4 linked regions of the Homo sapiens genome follow. The protein of the gene in region 3 interacts with the protein of the main gene of each other region in a pairwise test. Each region holds a gene or a part of one and is shown on either strand. Other genes may lie near its edges.

Region 1 (4,307 bases), on a different chromosome or scaffold from region 3:
CGCCCAAAGGAAGGATAATTACTCACCTCCCACTCAAGAAGCAGGCGGCAGAACTGTTTTGGAGAGCATGGCTTGGGGCCTGGGACCTATGTTCATGCGGTCCAGACGGAGATCCATGAGAGTTAAGACTCTTTCTAGATATCAGGTAGCACTTCTGATTACAAAACTTTTGCACATGGTCTCCTCTCTGCTTTACAACAGCTCAGGAAAGTAGGCCCAAACATCCACTTTAATAGATGAGGGAGCTCAGAGGGGGTAACCAACCCCTCCAGGTCACACAGCCAGGGAGGGGGTTGAGCCAAGGTTCAAACCACTGCCTCGGTTGTTGCAGATACATCCCTGCAGACACCTTTATTGAAGAGGGACCCTGAAGGCTGAACGGCCAACACAGAAGAGGAGGCACTTGGGAGTAAGGGTGATTTATGGCCCTGGGAGGGCCCAGTGCAGGTAGGATGGGAGCTAAGGTAAGGCTGGGCCATGCCTAGCTGCAAGCAAATTTCCTTAAAAAACAAACAACAAAAAACATTACTTTTTCTAAACCTAAAGTTTGTGGTGGCATTCAAGTCCCATCATAGCCCATCTATCCAGACTCATCTGCCTGGGATCCCCGTCTTGGGACTAGTGGTCACTGGCCTGCTTCCTGGTCAATTAGCTTCCGGGACTAGGGGGAGGTGTGAGGAGCCTAGAGTGCAAAATTTAAGAAGCACTCAGTCTCAGGGGCGTGCAGGTGCAGGGTAGCGACGGCAGGACTCTAAGAGTGAGTCTCTTTCCTCCCCGTTTCCCCGTCCTACTTTCACTCTAAGCATTTAGTTCCCAGGGGACAGAGACGACTTCTTCATTAGAAGACCCCGGGGGGTCCCCAGCCCGGAAGGGCTCACAGTTGGAGCTCAAACATTTGCCACTGTTCAGGCTCATCTTTCTTTCCCCAGTGAAAAATGGTCTAGGTTGGGAAGGGCAGGTTCCTGTCTACTGCGTGATCCAACCGATTCTGGTTCGCCCAATGTCTGGACTTGTCCTTTGCCAAGAATAAGCAGATGAGATGGGCGGATGAACCCCAATGTCCCTGCAAGATTCAGGAAGTCCCAGCCAGAAAGTAAAGGACGTTTAGTTCCATGTATTGTTTTCTTTTTTACATGCGGGGCAACACACCTGGACAGTGTCGATGGCTTGCTCCAAGCCACACGGCCGCATAGGGACAGGGACTGGGCTACATAACAAGTTCTTCGACGCTGTGATCTAATCAAGGAAAACCTGGGACGCAGCTAATAGATGCGCATCGAGTGTATCGACGCTCTAAGTACGAGGGCTGGAACAGTGAGCAGGATCAGTCCATTGCTTTTGCCTACCTGCTGAGCGCTGATTGGTCCCCGTTTAGGAAACGGAAAAAGGGGCGTGCACGCGGGCGCGGCTGCGTGAGAGGCGCGCGGCGGCGCAGTGAACAGTCTCCTTCCACAAAACCATGGCGTCGCTCAAATGTAGCACCGTCGTCTGCGTGATCTGCTTGGAGAAGCCCAAATACCGCTGTCCAGCCTGCCGCGTGCCCTAGTGAGCGGGGAGGTCGCGGGGTCCAGGGGCGCGGGTGTCCGGCCATGGCGGGAGGGCGGGAGGCCGGGAGGCCGGGCGGGAGCGGGCGGGCTGCTGGAGGGGCCGGGGACCCTCGGGGCTGACGCGGCCTGTGGCCTCTGTTGTTACAGCTGCTCGGTAGTCTGCTTCCGGAAGCACAAAGGTGAGCCCCGTCCCCGCCAGCCCTCGTACCACTGCGCACGGGGCAGCCCCCACGTCCAGCCTCCGTCTTGGGGGCGTGGACCCTTGGGCTGCGCTTCCTTTCCCGCCTCGGGTCTCCGCGGGTTCTGCAGGAACCTTGCTTCCTCTGACTTGGTCCCTGGTGTCTCTGTGTGTCGGACAGTTCCCTCTGTTGTCCCTGCCTGTAATCGCTCTCAGGGTTTTGGTCAGTAGCCTTTCTTCTACCCCGCTTCTCCTTCTGCGTGTTACTCTTTTTTGCTTAGAAATAGTTTCCGATTGCTTTTCCCACCGAGGTCTACCCTAGCAGTTTCTTCCTCAGTATTCTGATGTAGCCCCTCACCATTTGGCTGAAACTGCGCTAACTTTAACAGTATTTTCACTCGTGTAAATAATGTCTTGTTAGAAACAAAGAGGTAAGTCCATGTACAATACAAGGAGACGTCCTTGATTTGTTAAGAGAAAAAAAGAACCAAGTAAGTTCTGTGTATGATGTGAACACACTTTTGTACAGTTAAAAAGAAGTGACCTGGCCGGGCGCGGTGGCTCACGCCTGTGGTCCCGGCACTTTGAGAGGCCAAGGCGGGTGGATCACCTGAGCCCAGGAGTTCGAGACCAGCCTGGCCAACATGGTGAAACTCCGTCTCTACTAAAAATACAAAAATTAGGCGGGCGAGGTGCGCGCCTGTAATCCCAGCTACTCAGGAGGCTGAGGCAGGAGAATCGCTTGAACCCGGGAGGCGGAGGTTGTAGTGAGCCGAAATCGCACCACTGCACTCCAGCCTGGGCTACAGAGCCAGACTCAGTCTGGAAAAAAAAAGAAAAAAAAAAGTTTGATGTAGGTGGGGCGCGGTGGGTCACGCCTGTAATCCCAGCACTTTGGGAGGCCGAGGCGGGCGGATCATTTGAGCTCAGGAGTTTGAGACCAGCCTGGGCAACATAGCGAAACCCCGTCTCTATAAACAAACAAAGCCAGGCGTGGTGGCCTGTGCCAGTGGTCCCAGCTACTCAGGAAGCAGAGGTGGGAAGATCGCTTGAGCCTGGGAGGAGGAGGTTGCAGTGAGCCAGGATCGTACCACTGCACTCCAGCCTGGGAGACAGCAAGACTGTCTCAAAAAAAAAAAAAAAAAAAGCTTGATGTAGATTCTTTCAGCTTATTTCCACTCTTGTACCAATATATAGAACTTTTTTTTTTAGCTTTTAGAATCTCAGCAATGAGACTGTACCCAACATCCTCATTTGAGTTTATATATTGGGCACTTTTTAAAACCTAGTGCATACAGGCTGGGCGCAGTGGCTCATGCCTGTAATCCCAGCACTTTGGGATGCCAAGGTGGGTGGATCACCTGAGGTCAGGAGTTCGAGACCAGCCTGGCCAACATTATGAAACCACATCTCTACTAAAAATACAAAAATAAGCTGGGTGTGGAGGTGCGCGCCTGTAATCCCAGCTACTTAGGAGGCTGAGGCAGGATAATTGCTTGAACCATGGAGACGCAGGTTGCAGTGAGCCAAGACTGCACCACTGCACTCCAGCCTGGGCAACAGAGTGAGACTCCATCTAAAAAAAAATTAAAAAAATTAAAAATAAAGACTAGTGCATACAAGTTCTAGCTCACTGACTTAAAGGACTGTATGTTATTTCATTATATAGTTGGTACGACCATTATTTATATAAAGCCTCCTATTGGTTGATTTTTCTTTTTAATATTTGTTTTTAATTGACACATAATTGCATACAATTTGAGTTACAGTGTGATACTTCGATACCTGTATACAATGTTTAAGGATCAAATTAGGGTAATTAGCATATTCGCCCCAAATAATCATTTCTTCATGTTGGGAACACTCGCAATCCTCTCTTGTAGCTATTTGAAAGTATAAATTGCTGCCAACATGGTCACACTAAGGTACTGTGTAACACTAGAACTTATTCCTCCCATCTAGCTGTAATTTTGTATCCATTAAGCAACTTCTCCCTAGCCCCCTACACTCTACTCTTCCTAGCCTCCAGTTACCACTATTCTGCTCTCTACTTCTGTGAAATCAACTTGCTTAGCATCCACATGTTAACAAGAACATCTTATGGTGCCTGGCTTGTTTCACTTAACATTATGTTCTTTGGGCTCATCCATGTTCCTGCAAGTGACAGGATTTCATGGTTTTTTATGGCTAATATCCAGTGTATATATGTACCGCATTTCTTTATCCATCTGTTGGTGGATCCTTAGGTTCATTCCTTATCTTGGCTGTTGTGACTAGCAGTAAACGCAGGAGTGCAGGTATCTCTTCGGCAGACTGATTTCATTTCCTTTGGATATATATACAGTAGTGGGATTGCTGGATCATATGGTAGTTCTATTCGTAGTTTTTTTTTAGGAACCTCTATGCTGTTTTCCATAATGACTATACTAATTTACATTCCCAATAACAGTGCAGTGTATAAGAGTTCCCTTTTCTCCACATCCTTGCCAACATGTTTTTTTCTTTTTGATAATAGCCATTCTTACTGTGGTGAGATGATACCTCATTGTGGTCTTGACTTGCATGTCCCTAATAATTAGTGA
Region 2 (3,879 bases), on a different chromosome or scaffold from region 3:
CTTGGAATCGTTTTTCTGTCAGGTATCTGTAAGACTTGCTTCTTTACACTTTTTTAGGCTTCATTCAAATTTCACCTTCTTGGTGAGGTCTAGTTTAAAGCTGTAAATTGTGTCCCCCAACTTTCTGTCGTCTTTCCTGCTTTATTTTCCTCCATTTCAGTTGTCACCTTAAAATATGCTTTATAATTTACTCACTTTGCTTGTCTTTTAACCCCCACTGGAACGTAAGCATGATGAAGTAAGAGATTTATCTTTTCCATTGCTCTCTTCCCATGCCTAGAATAATGCACTTAATGTTTGTATTATTAATAAGTCTCTATTCTGAAGGCCAGAAAATACGTTCTCAGTAACAACATGTTTTTGCACAAGGGTAGAGGAAAACAAATTTATGGCTTTCTATAATTTATATGTATTGGGCTTTTTGTAAAACATGTAAATGTTTACTTCTTCCTATATGTGCTTTCTCTGGCTACTTCCAAAAGTTTACTTAGGTTGGAATCCACTTTATGTCTATACACATTTTCTTTGAGATAGTTAGAAAATTCACATAGATTATAGAAACAAGATTACATCTATAAAAAATGTTATATCTAAATACACCAAGGCAGCATATATGACCTAGACTGACAAATTATATTCTGAGCTCTGCCACTAAATTGCTGAGTGATCCAAAACAAGATCTAACTTCTTTGCTACATATTTTGGCACAGAAATTGCCAGCTGTACAAAAGGGAATTGCTACCTTTCCTCTCCTGTGGGGTGTAATGACAACAACACAGCTCTTTATACTCTGTTGAAAGGATGTTGTCCGTAATTCACAATTGGTGGCAATGCAGTTTTAAGAGAAAATTCAAGGGAAGTAATAAGTGTTTACAATATTAACCTGGATTTGAGATGCATTATTACTTACAACCTGTTTAGGTCTTAGAAGTTCTGAAAACTGTTAATGACTTCAACACTTCCAGTAGGCTATAGGTGGCCCTCAGAATAATCAGACTCTAAATCAGTATTCTGACACTTCAGCATATGTTAGAATTTCATGGAGGGCTTGATAAAGCAGATTGCTGTACCCCACCACCAGAGTTTCTGATTTCAATGGGTCTGGGGAGGGACCTGAAACTATAGATTTCTGACAAGTTTCCAGGAAATGCTGATTTTACTGTTCAGGGACCACACTTTGGAAACCACACAAATAGGAATCTCATGCAAACCCAAGGCACCTATCAAAAAATTTTCAACCAAGTGATTCTGCATGACAAGGGCCAGCAGTGCTAGGGAAGAAACAACATTCTGTTCTTTGGCCCGTCAGCAATGACCATTGCCAGAGCCAAACTGAGAAGAGTGGGCTGTCTGTTCAAGGAAGCTGAGATATATAATCTTAGCAAGCTGAGGGAAAGCAGCATAGCCACAGCCCTCTTTATATGCTAAGAACTATTCTAGAATTGGAGACTTACAAATCTTACCTTGGTAACTGGGACTCAGTCTGTGAAACTCCTGTACATCCCTCCACAGAGCAATGACCCTGACCTCCAGGATTTTTGTCTCAGCTGTAGTATTCTGAGGTTTAGAGTGGCCTTTACTTAAAAACAGCAACAGTTGTTTTTTTTTTAAGTTAACACATAATCTTTAGTAAAATTTGTCGAAAAATACTAACTTTGATTGTGTTTGGTCATTTATCATGAGTTTAGAAAATTGTAAAGTTGTAATTCTCTGTATTTATATGACCAAAAGGACTTCTTGGCAAAATCTTTCCACACTAAGTTCTCACAAATAACTGAGTAAATAGCAATCACAGTGTCAATATAATAACCTTCCTACTATGAATACAAATTATATTTTCTTAACATTACCTATTTATAATTATAACTGATGCTTTTAGGCAAGTATGAATAAGACAATGTCAAGGAAGTGAAATATAAATGAGTCAAATGTGGCAAAGAAAAGGGATAATCAGAATGAGAAGCTGAGTTGTGTTCTGCTTTAAAACTGAACCTTGGCTCTTCAAAGTAACCCTCAAGCCTTTATCCAAAATATATCAGGTAGGGGTCATTAGGAAACCTAATAGCATCTTGTAAGCACTAATAAAGGTTACTGTTCTAAAAGTCATTTTAAAACAACCATAAGCTGGCAAAGACTGACAGAATGAACTTTTTCAGAACTCTGGAATCTAATTGAAAACTTACAACAGCAACCAAGAGACTGCTTAATGAAGAAAAGGGCAGCTGATTTTTGGCATTTAAGGAAATCTCTGTTAGGTAACTGGCTGACCAGTGAGATAGTGGAACAGAGACTTCAGTGACCACACCCAACAAGGAATACTGCCTTTGCAAAAACAGTTTGGAAAAGTCACTAAACAAATGGATGACTGGAGCCCTCAGGAATCAACAACAGCAAACCCTGAGGCAGGGAGAGAATATGATTACCCATTGTAATGTTCAGATGCCCAGTTTTCAACAGAAAGGTATAAGGCATACACAGAAAGAGGAAAGTATGGCCCATTCAAAGGGAGAAAATAAATTGGCAAAAACCTTCCCCGGGAAGCCCAGACATTGGACTTACTACTAGACAACTGTCTTAAATATGCTCAAAGAGCCAGCAGAAATCAGGAAAACGATGGATGAACAAAGTGAGAATATCAATAAATTATATAAAAAAAGAACCAAGTATACATTTTGGAGCTACAAATGATTTTAGGACATGCTAGAGCTAGATATACCAAAAGTTCTTTCATGCTAAAACTTTGGAAAGACTTACTCTCCTTAAGTTCAGATAAATGAAAGACATAAGGAGAGAGGGCATTTGGAGACTCTGTATGCTGGTATGAGAGTTAATAAGCAGGACTGTAAAGCATCTGTTAGACAAGACACCGCAGGAGTTGGGCTCCTGTTGACTTGCCATTTATTGGCTGATTTGTCTTGGGACAGGCGCTGAACATCTCATCCATAGTTTCCTGCTCTGTGAAATAGAGCATCTGTTCTACAGACACATTATGAAGAGCCAGTGAGACTGTACAGAAATGCTGAAAATGTGAGGCATCCACTATGTTCATCCTCCAGAGGAACCAACAGCCTAATGATTAAAGAAAGAGAATGTTTACTTTACTATGCTACCAAGTTATCAATAGAGGCACAGTGCTTGAGTTAAAGAACTCTGCAGACTTCAGCAGCTGTTCAGGTGGTCATTATGCCCAGAGGAGGAATTCTAGCCCCTCTGGAATTCCATCACCCTATCATCAATTAGATTTTTTTTCCCCACAGTCTCCATTTCCCACTTACTATCTCTTTCATCTCACTCCTCCCAATTAAATTTATTTTGCATACTTAGAGTAACTTTAAATGCTTAGTTTTTCAATTATTTCTCCTTTCCCAGGAATTTTTATGATGTTTTTTAATATCACTAGAAGACAATCTAGAAACACCACAAATCCCAGATTGGATCAGCTTGGGCCTTCCTCTGTTGTTTTACTGGCATTAATAGAAAGCAGCTCTAATAGTCAAGTGCAAAGTCAGTTTGTAAATGCTGAACAAATAACAGATAAGACTATTGACTGGCTTCTTGGGAAAACTGTTTGGTCAGGAGAGAGAAAACTGTTGAAAAACTGTTGTACTGATGTCACCGGTGATTGAAGGGGTATCTTTAATTGGCTAATTTGAAAGAAAGTCACAAAAGAAAGGCATGAATAACCAAAATCCTGGGATATTTCTGAAACTCAGTCGAGGTCAGTAGATCTGTCTGGGACTACATTTTCCATCCCAGTTCCTAACAAAGTTTCATTTTCTTTTCTTTATTCTCTGATGTAAGAGTTAACAGTGAAATGACCAAAATCCTGAAAGCCAATGGAGCAACAATAAACATACTCAGATAGATTGCCTCATAAAT
Region 3 (3,879 bases):
CCAAGTGACAACTCATGAGTAACTAAGCTCATTTTTAACTTGATGGCATTCCAGGTTTATGGGCCCATTGATGATTCGTGTAACTTCAACCACTGATTTACTCTGTTTGTCCATACATATTCATTTATGTACATAATATTGATTCTCTACTGGAACAATAATTTACAAAATTCTATTTAGCATCTGACAAACCTTTCACTTTCAAACTAGTCATACTGTACTCTACCCCACCCCTCCTTTCAAGGTGAGGAATCCACAGCCAAGAAATGGGTCAATGTGGAGTCTATCATTTTAACCACGTTCCAGGTTCCAGGACTCTAGGATTCTTGCCCAAATGACCCCAAGCCCAATTCCAGAGCCTAGGTAGGTTCCCTGGGTCCATCCTCCCAGACCACCTCTAGGCATGAGAGGTGGCCAACAGGTGAGTGTCTGTAGCAGATGTGGACACACAGGATAGGGTTTGTGCAAGGTGGTATGGGATGCATCTAGCCATGGGAAAAGAAGGCAGTCAAGAATAGAAATGGCTGGGCCACGCACAACTCTTTCTGCACTACCATGTTGGGTACAGAACTCAGAAGAGTCTCAGAATTCTAAATCAGAACACGGCCTTGTTGAAGGTAGGTATGCCAAGACAGAAGGAAGGAACATATTGCACTTAAAAGTTACAAATCCAGCTGAGGACCTGTTAAATATCTAGGCACAGCTCATGGACCTCTACTTTGTACTCTTGCCCCTTAAATATTAGCGGCCGGCCTTTCTACAAGTACATGGAAAACTGATAGCCAGAAAGCCCTACCGGGAATCTTCTTGGCCCAGCTGATCATGTGTACCAACTCCTTGTCGGCCAACTTGGTCAGGGACATCATCATGGAGGCCTCGGTGAAGGGCGCACTGGGGCGGCTGATCAGCACATGGGGCGGCTCAGCCTCCAGGAGGGTGAGCACTAGCTGCTCGGGGCTCAGGGCGTCCAGCAGCAGCTCCCGCACTCGGGGCGCGTGGCCGCCACTTCTCTTGGCCTTGCCGGCACAGTGCAGCTGCTCGTCGGCACTTCTCTGTCTCCGCACAAGGCGGTACCCACATCTCTCTCTCCGGGAGCCTGAAGAGGAAAGCAGAGTCATTCGAATTGCCAGGGTAAAACCGCAGTCAAGCAAAAGCAGCTTGACTTTTATTTTCTGGAGCCTGTGGGGCACGTACCAAAGATTACTATGGTCGTGACCGTACTAGCAAAACCAACGACATAACTTTTCAGAAACTTTTTAGGTCTCCATTTCCAGGTCATCTATAGATACTAACACCGTTTCTCTATAAAGAGTGCTCATAAACCTGTTTCCAAACCATGAAATTAGGAATTTTCTTCAGGTAGAAAAATGGGGATATTTCCAAAGGTATCAAATAATATACTTTTATTATAACACATTCTTAAAATGTTTATATGCATGTGTGCATATGTATATATTTCCTTATACTTACACAAAACAAGTATATTTCAAATAACAAATTAAGTGAAAAAATCTGAAAAATATAGAAGAGAATAAATTTTGGCATAAACTCTTTCAGTCTTTTTAATGCTTTTATTTTTCTTTTTTCTTTTTTTTTTTTTTTTGAGACGGAGCCTTGCTCTGTGGCCTAGACTGGAGTGCAGTGGTGTGATCTCGGCTCACTGCAAGCTCCGCCTACCGGGTTCACGCCATTCTCCTGCCTCAGCCTCCCGAGTAGCTAGGACTATGGGTGCCTGCCACCATATTTTTCCACGTTTTATACACAAAATTATTTATTTATTTTTGAGACGGAGTCTCACTCTGTCACCCAGGCTGCAGTTCAGTGGCACATTCTTGGCTCACTGCAACTTCAGCCTCCCGGGTTCAAGCGATTCTCCTGCCTTAGCCTCCCAAGTAGCTGGGATTACAGGAGCCCGCCACCATGCCTGGCTAATTTTTATATTTTTAGTAGAGATGTGATTTCACCATGTTGGCCAGGCTGCTCTCAAATTCCTGATTCTCAAGTGATCTGCCCATCTTGGCCTCCCAAAGTGCTGGGATTACAGGCGTGAGCCACTGCACCCAGCCTTTATACACAAAATTAGATTGTAGTATCTACACTATTTTAATTGTATTTTTGAGACAGAGTCCTGCTCTGTTGCCCAAGCTGGAGTGTAATGATGCAATCATAGCTCACTGCAGCCTTCATCTCCTGGACTCAAGCAATCCTCCTGCCTCAGCCTCCTGAGTAGCTGGGACTACAGGAATATGCCACCATGCCCAGCTAACTTTTAAATTTTTTTGTAGAACTAGGGTCTTACTATGTTACCCAGTCCTCAATAGTTTGACTGTTTTCTCAGAACCCATTGGGCATTAAAAATCATTTTTAATGTTTGCTAATCTAACTAAACCATCTCGCTTTACTTTGTATGTTTTAATTACTAGCAAAGTTGATTTATATGCTTGTTCTTTGGATTTACTTTTTTTTTTTTTTTTTTAAGAGACAAGGTCTCTGTCACCCAGGCTGAAGTATGGTGGTACAGTCATGATCACAGCTCACTGCAGCCTCAACCTCCCAGGCTCAAGAGATCCTCCCACCTCAGCCTCCTGGATAGCTGGGACTACAAGTGTGCACCACCACATCTGACTAATTTTTGTATTTTTTGTAAAGACAGGGTCTCACCATGTTGCCCAGGCTGGTCTCGAATTCCTGGGCTCAAGTGATCCTCCTGCCTTGGCCTCTGAAAGTGCTGGGATTACAGGCATAAGCCACCACATCCGGCCCAAGAATTAAGTTTTAGTGATATAGAAACAAGGTGGAACCAAAATAACAAACAATAACATGCAAAATCAGAGAGGAATGATTTTGGTTAGAATTTCTAAGATTCTTTTTTGGGAAGATAGAAGCTTAAATTCTCAAATTAATCAAGAACACGTTACAAAACATAAACGTCATTAAAGGAATTGAAACATGGCCAAACATGGTGGCTCACACTTGTAATCCCAGAACTTTAGGAGGCCAAAGGTGGTTTCGGCGGGTGGGGCGGGAGGGGACGGATCACTTGAGGCCAGGAGTTCAAGACCAACCTGGGCAGCATGGTGAAACCCCATCTCTACTAATAATACAAAAATTAGCTGGGCATGGTGGCAAATGCCTGTAATCCTAGCTGTTTAGGAAGGTGAGGCAGGAGAATCACTTGAACCTGGGAGGCAGAGGCTGCAGTGAGCCAAGATCACACCACTGCACTCCAGCCTGGGTGACACAGCGAGACTCTGTCTCAAAAGATAAAAGGGAATTGAAACAGAATGTATGACTTTTAAACTAGCAAAAGAAGAAAAAGAAAACATAAAAATGTGATCAACTCCTAAAAGGGAAGAAGTAGAAAATACATAATAAAATTTTTTAAATCAAAAAATAAGATGATAGAAATGAACCCAAATATCAGTTATCACAATAAACAAAAAATACCAAATTGACCATTTAAGAGTGACTCTGAAATTATACATATTTTTAAATCTAGACATAGATTAGGTGTAAGAGATATACCTAACATATAGAAAAACAAAGTAGACAGATAGAAAAATATTTAACAGGCAAAATTAACCAAATAAATTGACATTACTCTATTGATACCAGACAAATAAACTTTAAGGCAAAAATTATTATTATAGATAAGGAGACTCATCGCTAGAATATTTTAAAAAGATAAATAATTCTAAACTCATATACTTCAAAACAACAAAGGCCAGGTGCGCTGGCTCATGCCTGTAATCCCAGCAATTTGGGAGGCCAAGGTGGGCGGATCACCTGAGGTCAGGAGTTTGAGACCAGCCTGGCCAAAATGGAAAAACCCCATCTCTACTACAAATACAAAAATTACCCAGGCATGGTGGTGCATTC
Region 4 (3,879 bases), on a different chromosome or scaffold from region 3:
AAAAAGGCTGGGCGCGGTGGCTCACGCCTGTAATCTCAGCACTTTGTGGGGCTGAAGCAGGCGGATCACAAGGTCAGGAGTTCGAGACCAGCCTGGCCAATATGGTGAAACCCCATCTCTACTAAAAATACAAAAATTAGCTGGGCGTGGTGGCGGGCACCTGTAGTCCCAGCTTCTCGGGAGGCTGAGGCAGGAGAATCGCTTGAACCCAGGAGGCAGAGGTTGCAGTGAGCCGAGATCGTGCCACTGCACTCCAGCCTAGGCAACAGACAGACTCTGTCTCAAAAAAAAAAAAAAAAAAGTTGAAGAAAAACATTTGCAGAGGTGATTTAAAATAATTCTCATCTTCGCTGCAGTGGCTTTTAAGAAAAACATACAAGTAGCAATAGAAACAAGGAGACAGTTAAAAATGAGACACAGAAAGAAATAGCATAATGAGGACATTATATGCCTTACCTTATTTATCTTCTCTTTTGGGTGTGATAAGAGATTTGGGAAGTGTGACAGGACATCACAATTGAGAACAACCTGGGTCTGCTCGTCGGTGCCAGTCACTATGTTGCCAACTGCTCTGAGGGCTGCTGTCTAGGGTGGGGATAAAATGTTTTCTATAAATTTATTTGCTTATAAGACTAATTCTATATTTTTCATAATCCTGAGAAAAAGTAAAAATGCAAGGCATAAATAACACTTATTTCATCCTTTCACAAAGCACCAAGCAGTCTGAGAGCTATTCTGAATTTTAAATAGTCTCTTGTGAAAAACTGAAACTTTATGAAAAAAAAAAATTGTGTGAAAATTGGTTGGAAAAAGATTCAAAAAATAAAAGGAAATTAAAATTTTAGAAGAAGTCCAGTTTCTTAAGGCTGGGCATGGTGGCTCATGCCTATAATCCCAGCATTTTGGGAGGCCGAGGCGGGGGGGATCACCTGAGGTCAGGAGTTTAAGACCAGCCTGGGCAACATAGTGAAACTCCATCTCTACTAGAAATACAAAAATTAGCTGGTGTGATGGTGCATGCCTGTAATCCCAGCTACTCTGAAGGCTGAGGCAGGAGAATCACTTGAACCTGAGAGGCAGAGGCTGCGGTGAGCAGAGATCGCGCCACCATACTCCAGCTTGGGCGACAGAACAAGACTCCATCTCAAAAATATATATAATATTTTAATAAACGCCTGGAATGGGCACACACTTCCACCTAGAAAGTCACTTTGGTAAAGCAGGATGAACAGATCTAATAAGTGCCTACCCCTAATTAGAGTGGGAGAGAGAAAGAAGAAATGCAATTAGGTTATTGCAATTATTTGGGGGAAAGATAGAGTCTTGAACTAAATCTGTTGTTCTAGATAGATAAGGAGAGACAGATTTGAACCTATATAAGAAGAATTGAAATGATTTTGTAATGGAATGGGAATTGCAAGGAGGAATCAAAATTTCTAGCTTAGGCCATGCTGTTCACTGAAGGTAGACAAGGAAGAAGAGCAGGTTTGTGGGAGATGATCGTTTCATTTCTGTCTAGTTAACCACGGAAAGCTTGAAGGAGTTCTTAGATGATATGTATAAAGGGTCAAGAACAATTGGCTATACAAGTGTGGAACTCAGCAAAGAAACTGGGTGAGATAAAGATTTGGAAATCAACAAAATCAGGCTCAGGGACTAGCAGAAGAAATGTGGAAGATAAGCACTTACAGATAGAATTAAAGCCTAGCTGTACAAGTTAACTGGTTATAGCAAACACAACTGTATACAAATAAGAAAAATTTAAAAATACTTACTTGAACTTTGACTTCCTGATGGCTCAGAAGGGGCACAAGAAAGGGCACAACTCCTGAATCAATAACCATCTGTATCTGTTCATTACCTCCATCTGTCAAGTATGACAGAGCCCAAACAGTGTCTACAAGAATCTACAGGAAACACAAAAGAAAAACCATTTTACATATTTGTTTGAATGCTTTACTTGTTCAACACACCTCAGGAGTAGTGACAGAAAAAGTAACCAAATTTCAAGTTTTAGCTTAGTGGCAAAAATATCTGCTTAGCTGATTAATCTATTAAGTAGAAAGTACCTTATCTTTCTTTCAGTGCCTACCTCAGATCATTCTTCACAGAAAATGAGACACAGAAGTCTGGGAAAACTTCTATTCCAACTTCTGCATTTATGTATCAGACAGATGAATTTAAAAACAGGCAGAAAAGTAATTCTCCCTGCCCTCACAAATTAGCTACCTAATAATCCCACAGAAAAACACTATTTACAAGAATGAGGCCAACACACCATACTGTTTCAAGTTCAGAAGAGAACAGAAAGGTCATCTATTTACTCTACTGGTTTTCCAACATATTTAGCAATACAATTTTTCAGGCTACTAAAGTAAACCAATAAAAGAAATGACTTGGCACTTTAACTTCATCTGGGGAAAAAACTGTTTGAAAATCTCCTGAAATGTGTCCCCAACTGAAGTATAAACCTGGAGTATAAACCATGCCCTAGGCCTATCCTAACTTTGCAACTACATAGAAGAAAACAGGCTTAGCGATCTGGTGATTCATTCAAGGTCAAAGATCTTGTATGTGGCATTGCTTGGTGTCGTCACAGAGGAATATAAGCACTGGTTGTAGCTTATGCAAAATCAAGATGTTTCCTATTAGGTCATCCAAATTGAAGACATCACATCTTTTTGCCCTAAAATAATAGCAGGCACCTGAATTCACATACCCTTCAAAAAAGGATATAGATGAATAAATAAAATAGAACTACACATATAACCCACACCCCTTCAGCATTACTAAGAGTCAGAGAACACTAAAAATTTCCATTATCTGTAAGAGGAGAAAAAATTAAATTCTAGCTTTTGTCTGGACCTCTTGCCTCAAGACTGTGTAAAAGAGAGGACAGAAGCTGGGCCTAAGAGCTGAGCCCACCTACCAGCCCATTTCCCACTCTGGAAGTGAGGAGGCCTCCCTGCTGGAGGTGTCTGCAGATGCTGGGTCTGAGAACAAAGTCTGGCTACTGCCCACCCTGGCAGTAACAGTAACTAGATTTACCTAGAAACAGGGGTCTCAAAGCATAACACCAATATGTGTAGGCTACAATGGAAAATAACCCTTCATACCAAGATCCAGGAAATTCTCAAAAGAGAAAAGACAGTCAACAGATGCCAATATTGAGATGACACACATATTGGAATTATCTGACAAGGACTTGATAAGATTTTAAAGTAACTATCATAAAAATGCACTGGTGAACAATTATGAACACATTTGAAACAAATTTAAAGTGGGAATTCTCAGCAAAAAAACCCGACATGATAGAAGGGGGAAAAAAAAATAAATGAACCCAAAGATACATCAATAGAAATCATCCAAACTGAATAACAGAAAAAAAAAAAGATTAAACAGAAATTAACTCTCAGGAACTTCCAGCACAATAACAATAGATCTAATATTTGTGTCTTCAGAGACCCTACAAGGAAAGGCGGAGCTGAAAAAAATATGAAGAAATATGTTCCAAATTTGGCAAAATAGATAAGTCTAGAATCAGATTAAAAAATGGGAGGTTGAGGCAAGAAGAGAAAATAGAATAAGCTCATGCATCATTGCACAGGTAAGAGACAGAAGTAAAAAAATATATCATTTAAAACTGTCAAAACAGATAGTAAGAGAGCATTAAAAAGGTGTAAGAATAAAGGTAACCACTAGAACAAAAATACAAACTTCCCCAAATACCAAAAGAAAATTGAGAAAGACAAAAGTATGCTTAGCAGAGAAAAAAAAAAACACAGGGACATTATTTCACAAAATGACAGTTCAAATCAATCTATCAACCTATGTGAATGGGCCTAACTAACCTATTAAAAAAAAAAAAAGATTTTCAAA

What was found.
Region 1: the proteins of ESR2 (region 3) and ZNHIT3 come close enough for resonance energy transfer, tested with the Homo sapiens proteins (one study listed by BioGRID).
Region 2: the proteins of ESR2 (region 3) and JMJD1C come close enough for resonance energy transfer, tested with the Homo sapiens proteins (one study listed by BioGRID).
Region 4: the proteins of ESR2 (region 3) and KPNA3 interact in binary tests that used the Homo sapiens proteins (3 or more experiments, as listed by UniProt).

The regions. Positions count from the first base shown.
Region 1 is NC_000017.11:36,485,241-36,489,547, forward strand, and holds the start of ZNHIT3 (zinc finger HIT domain-containing protein 3), read left to right. Parts: upstream 1-1,440; 5' UTR 1,441-1,459; coding exon 1,460-1,545; intron 1,546-1,694; coding exon 1,695-1,726; intron 1,727-4,307.
Region 2 is NC_000010.11:63,168,911-63,172,789, reverse strand, and holds part of JMJD1C (probable JmjC domain-containing histone demethylation protein 2C), read left to right. Parts: intron 1-3,879. UniProt on the Homo sapiens protein: Probable histone demethylase that specifically demethylates 'Lys-9' of histone H3, thereby playing a central role in histone code. Demethylation of Lys residue generates formaldehyde and succinate.
Region 3 is NC_000014.9:64,259,653-64,263,531, forward strand, and holds part of ESR2 (estrogen receptor beta), read right to left. Parts: intron 1,097-3,879; coding exon 797-1,096; intron 1-796.
Region 4 is NC_000013.11:49,709,116-49,712,994, forward strand, and holds part of KPNA3 (importin subunit alpha-4), read right to left. Parts: intron 1,908-3,879; coding exon 1,776-1,907; intron 586-1,775; coding exon 457-585; intron 1-456. UniProt on the Homo sapiens protein: Functions in nuclear protein import as an adapter protein for nuclear receptor KPNB1. Binds specifically and directly to substrates containing either a simple or bipartite NLS motif.